2 separate regions of the Homo sapiens genome follow, and region 2 is linked to region 1. The links come from fine-mapping of genetic effects on gene expression. A gene starts in region 1. The other region holds a variant in brackets. All regions are shown on one strand. Distances are from middle to middle. Region 1 holds the start of RNF182 (ring finger protein 182). Region 2 overlaps RNF182 (ring finger protein 182).

Region 1 (2,911 bases):
TGACAGATCTCTAGAATTGAGATAGCTGGGAGAAATGTATGTGCATTTTGAATTCTGGCAGGTATTGCCAAATGCTTAATGGCCTGCCAAAAAGACCTTGTCTTTTGACTTCATCTGGAATATTATTGACTTCATTCAGAATATTCCCATTACAAGAAAGTGGCCAGTCTCTCCGAGGAACAAACTGTTTTCCTTTTCCACCATGAAATAGATCTTATCTTTTCATTAGTTAATATAGGTGTACCTTCAAATGGCAATAACATTGTTCTGCTTTGTGGCTTCTCAAGTAGTAAACCCAGAAAACATCAGCTACCGTGGATTTTATTATAAATCATTGACATTCCTTTGGTGATTCACAAATGCCAAAAAATAAATGTCATGTTCCCCAGGGTTTGAAGAAAGACACTGTAGCTTTTGGATTCAGCAACGGATCTTTCAAGAAAACAGTATGGAGGGATGACTCACTCCCCCCATGGAGGCTGCCCTCTAGTTCGTCCTTTAGAGGAAGCATGACCAAGGGTCTGCTGGTACTTTTCTCTCCCTCTCTAAGAATTTCCTCAGGAGAGGAAAAAGTTAGCTTTCTTTTCTCTGCTCCTGAGTGCCATGGCCTGCAGTACGTGACCAGTCCTTGGCACAGAGTCACTCAGGGCTCATGGTAGATGCTTAGCGGTCACAGCCAGTAGCTGCGCAGTGTGGCAGCAGCTGAGATCCATACTGCAGCCTGAAAGTTGTGTTTCAGCTTCTGAGGTTACAAGTGTATCCAGTGTTTACATCAGAGATAAAGCCCCCTTTCCCCTCTCTCCTACGGGAGCCCTCAACAAGACAGATACACGGGTTGGGTGGAGTGAGACCACATCCAGCAGAGGCAAAGCTTGCTAAAAGAGAGAGGAGGAGGAGGGGGAGAGGGAGGAGGCGGCACGGCGTCCCTTGGCAGCTCCGTGCATGCTGCGGCAGTTGCAACAGGAGAACCGAGTACCAGTTGCTCAACACTTTATCACTTTGCATTGCTCTTTCTCCTCCCTTAAGTGAATTTCCATTTTGAGGGTACAGCTCCACAGGAGAAAGGTGTGGTGGTGGTAGTGGTGGAGGGTGTCTGTGGGGGGGATGGTGGTGCGACGGGAGTTGGAATGTCCAGTGTGGGGAAGCAAAGGAGTGCCTACTAGGATGCGAATACCACTTGGCCCTGGGCTCGCTCCGCTTTAGCCTTCCCCTCTCGCTGGGGAGAAACAGGCGGTTTGTGAGGGAGACTGAGAGAGGGGCGTGTTTGTGGTGGTGGCGGCCCATCGGGGGTCCTTGTCCTCTCCGAATACCCGGACTGCTGAGGGGAAGGGCCGGGGGGGCCCCGGCGGTTGCCATGGTGACGCAGGGTCGGCGGCTCAGCGCCGTAGAGACAAAGCCGCCCGCCCGCCAGCCCGCTAGCTCCTCGCGCGAGCTCCTCCTCCACGGGAACCTCCCTCCCCTCCCAGGCGCCGCCGCAGCCGGAGCGGCTCCCGGGCCCTGGGCCGCCGCCGGCCAGGTAAGGCGATCGCGCCCGCGGCCGGGGAGGGGTCGGCGGGACGCCGGGCCTCCCCAACGCTGGGGCAGCAGCCAGCCCCGCAGTCCTGGACGGCGCCGGGCCGCCCAAGCGCGCCGAGGAGAGGGGGCGGCAAACTTCGGGCCGAGCGGCGCCGGGGCCCGCGCGCGGAGTCTCCCTCCGGGCACCACGGGGGCCGCCGTCCTGGCACCAACTTGAGGGGCTGTGCGGCGGAGGGCGGCTGCGGAGCGCCCGCGCGGGCTGCACCTGCTCAGGGAGCTGCCCCTCTGTTGTTGTTGTTATTTTCCTTCTTGGCGTGCCATCGAGGCTTTTGGGGGAAAAAAAGGTATGAAAGTATTTACCTTTGGACTTTCATGTTTCATGGCATTCTCTTTGAGGAGGGGTTGGGAGGGTAGTAAGAGGGACAAGCGAAAGATTTTTACGAATCTCTGAAAAGTGAGCCCATTTTTATGCCTGTGGCTGAAGCATTTTGAGGAGGCTTCTGAAGTTCGTTTGGATATTGAATCGAAAGACCTTTTTTTCTTTGGAAGGTGCAGTTGCACCTATAACTGGATGGTAAGGGTAGCCCGGCTTTCCCCGACTAGCAAGACCAGAATGTAGAGCAGTACCGATACTTTGTCAAGGAGATACTTGGCACCGAGGTCATTGCTTTTGTTTCTAGAAGGTATTGTGTTCATGCTGTAAGGAACTGGAAAGTGCCTTTTGTTTTTATGTGTAGGGAGGCAATCCAAAGCACCTCTGGAGGCAGGTAGCTGGGCGGTGTTTGCATCGGTGTTTATGAGTGGGATGATGAGGACCACGATGCGGTTGCCACTGGGGCACTGGATAGGTTATAGGTACCTTTCTCAGTGGCCCCAACCCTTGCAATCATTTCGTGATAGTTTGTTGCAGACGCGAAGCACAGATTTAAATTGTGACTGTGAAGACTTTTTTTTTTGGTACTTAGACATCATCTTACATGTAGTAATATGAAAGAAAACAGATACATTTTCAGAAATACAGTTGATCAATTCAGAAGGAAATTGTATATATGTTAATAAGATTTGTTTTAAATCATATTTAAACAATATGAGATGTCATATTGATAACTGGAAAATAATCTAACATATAAAATTGTATATCCAACTTAGTAAAATAATGTATAAGTTGGAATAGGTCATTTAAAGAACTATATGGAATGCAAGAAATTATATTTTTGCTAGAGAGTAATTAATGAAAACAGTACCACTGATCATTTTGAATTGCAGTTAAGTTGATTGGAATTCTGCATATTACAGCTACTTGAGGTGTCAGGCAAAGAGTGATTATTTAATATTCCTCTTCCCTCTTTTGGGATTTCAACACCTGTTAGCCTGCTGATTACTAGGTTTCTCAGTC
Region 2 (2,911 bases), 54 kb after region 1:
TGAAACAGAGGAAACCCAAAGTGCTGGAGTGTTGTCATAGGGTTTGTGCCAAATGCCTCTACAAGATCATAGACTTTGGGGACTCCCCACAAGGTGTCATTGTCTGTCCTTTCTGCAGGTTTGAGACGTGCCTGCCAGATGATGAAGTTAGTAGCCTGCCCGATGACAACAACATCCTTGTAAACTTGACTTGTGGAGGCAAAGGGAAGAAGTGCCTGCCAGAGAACCCTACTGAGCTGCTGCTCACCCCCAAGAGGCTGGCCTCTCTGGTCAGTCCTTCTCACACGTCCTCCAACTGCCTGGTCATAACCATCATGGAGGTGCAGAGAGAGAGCTCCCCGTCCCTGAGCTCCACTCCTGTGGTAGAATTTTATAGGCCTGCGAGTTTCGACTCTGTCACCACTGTGTCACACAACTGGACTGTGTGGAACTGCACGTCCCTGCTGTTTCAGACATCCATCCGGGTGTTAGTGTGGTTGCTAGGTTTGCTCTACTTCAGCTCCTTACCCTTAGGAATCTACTTACTGGTGTCTAAGAAAGTCACCCTTGGGGTCGTCTTTGTCAGCCTGGTCCCTTCGAGCCTCGTTATTCTTATGGTGTATGGTTTTTGCCAGTGTGTTTGTCATGAATTTCTAGACTGTATGGCACCTCCTTCTTAACTGATATGCAAAATAAGAAATTGGACACACATTGCCCTGTTTGAGTGTGAAGTTAGATAATTTATAATTTATTTTCTTTTATGTTCTTTATGATTAGTATCCATGACATTAACAAAACCCTTGGCCACATGTTGACTTGATTGGTTTTCCTGTAGGCTGGAAGTAAAAATGTTCATTTCTACTTAGGGGTTAGCAAAATTGTATAAGCTCACACTTCATGGAGCACTGACAGCAGTGAGTCTTCCCAGAGAAAGGACAGGGTTTCTCTCAGCACTGCCAGACAGACGGCAGGGGTGTGGTGTGTTATACTATAGGGAGAGCATGGATCCCTCCTTTCGTATTCATGGATGTTCTATGATGGCAGTTGGACACAAGAGGAAAGTTGCTCTGAGACACAAAGTGTGTACTCCTTTCCCACCCCATACCCCTGGTATTGGAACACCCTAGAATTGTCTTCAGGTGTTTTCTCTCTTAAGTCACTCTCTGTGGTCGGCGATCCCATTGAGATACTTGTTTCCTCTGCCCATTCTCCCTTGCCAAGAGGAAACTCGGTTCCATTCCCTTGGGTAGTTTCAACTGAATACCAGTTTTGCCACATTACTAAGGAGAATGAAAAGCACTGAGGAATTTGCATCACAGTCAGCTTCATGGCAGAATGTGGCCATTTGTCCTTGAGACACACTCTTTCCTCCATGTCTGTTTTCCTCTCTCCTCAGTCTTATCTGAGAAGAATGGAGGAGAAGGAACTTCTCATACAGC[G/T]GTTATTATTGATGAAAACCTTCATTTGAGTCTTTCCTTATAACATCTTAGTTTTGGTTTTTTTAAACCACATTGCCCAATCAGCCTCACCCCTTGTCCTGAAAAGGTTCCATTTAAATTAGTTGCTATAAATTCATCAATACTTTTTTTCCCTATTATATTTTTGGTTCTATTAGGATTTACTTAACTGAATCTTATAACAATTCGAGGTGAACTGTGGCAATGAAAACCAGAAACAGTTAATGAGATGCTTCAGCTCACAGTTTGAAGTGCTGAGAACCTAAGTATTTTGCTGTACGGTACTGAGCTGTACCAAAATATGATGGTTTAGGTTTATGTGCAAGACTTTGTGTTGTAGTCTAGACAAAGGGGTGGGCAAGAGACATGCAAAGCTGAAGCCCTGCTTGAAAAGACCCTTCAAGGAAGTAAAATGGCAGGGGCAGAGTGCAGCTTAACATGTTGCTATCCCTGTTGTTTTTGAGTTGGTTTTGGAATGGATTCAAGTTCTTACACAATTTATTTTGAATACAAGCATAATCTAGGTGATTTGAGTTAATGAACTTCTTTTCATGATGTAGGGAAAGTTGAATGTATATATTTCTAAGAAGAATTTGTTTAGCAGATTACAAGTTGGCAAAATAGACTGTTCACAGAAACTAGGCAAAAATTTAAAAAAACATTCTAGTCTCTAAAACCCATTACTAATGATTAACATTAAAATATTTGTAACTCTTAGAAAGGGGGCATTACTAAGACGACTTTAACTTGTTATGAAATCTTTGTTGTGTGATGCAGGTACAGTGCGCCCATTCCAACTGGAATAGCAGTTTGATTTTAATTGTAAAACTAAACTTCGGGAATATGTATGCCCAAAGTAAGTAGGATGAGAATAGTATACATGGGATATGGTCCAATGAATTTAAGCCCCAAGATACAGCTAAATACATTTATGATTTCATAAAATCTAGTTTAGATAGCATTGTGATGCAATTTCCAGAAATCCATTTGTGTTTAGAGTAAATACCATGTTTAGAAGATGTTTTGTGGTTTGGATTTATATATTTGTAAGGTTTTTTTAAAAAAATGTTCGTTTTGTTTGAAATGTAACATTGAGTAAATTGGTGAGTTATATAATGAGATTTCTAGAAAGCTCTGGACATGGGTACGATGTGTTTTGCTTCTCTGTATAATGTCTACAGTGATAAACTTGTGTCTCCGTGTATTGTGGCAGTCTTTTTTTCTAGTTAATTTGGCTTTAGAGAGCAATCTTTGTATGACACCAGAAAACTCTTCATGCTATTGAATGATAAAAAGATAATGCTTTAATATTTTATTCACTGTGATACTATTTTGTTTGTCTATTAAATTGTTATTATTTCCAAATTTAGAAGTTTGATTTCTCTGACTTATGGTTAAAATTCAGTTATGACTTTGCACCTCTGTTAGCTTTAGATAACGGCAAACATGAACATTCAGAAACGTTGGTTCAGCTA

Evidence for each region. PIP is the estimated chance that this variant, and not a neighbour inherited with it, causes the effect.
Region 2: its variant is fine-mapped to the expression of RNF182 in whole blood (TOPMed, PIP 0.93).

Annotation. Positions count from the first base shown.
Region 1 is chr6:13,923,508-13,926,418 of GRCh38, forward strand. It overlaps RNF182 (ring finger protein 182), which reads left to right and starts at 1,445. Exons shown (of 3, transcript NM_152737.4): 1 at 1,445-1,516. RefSeq lists an enhancer at 340-840.
Region 2 is chr6:13,977,205-13,980,115 of GRCh38, forward strand. RNF182 (ring finger protein 182) reads left to right here. Exons shown (of 3, transcript NM_152737.4): 3 at 1-2,911. The coding sequence ends at 659. Among named protein-coding and RNA genes, the nearest start is that of RNF182, 54 kb to the left of the region's middle. The variant G/T (reference allele first, on the strand shown) is at 1,419.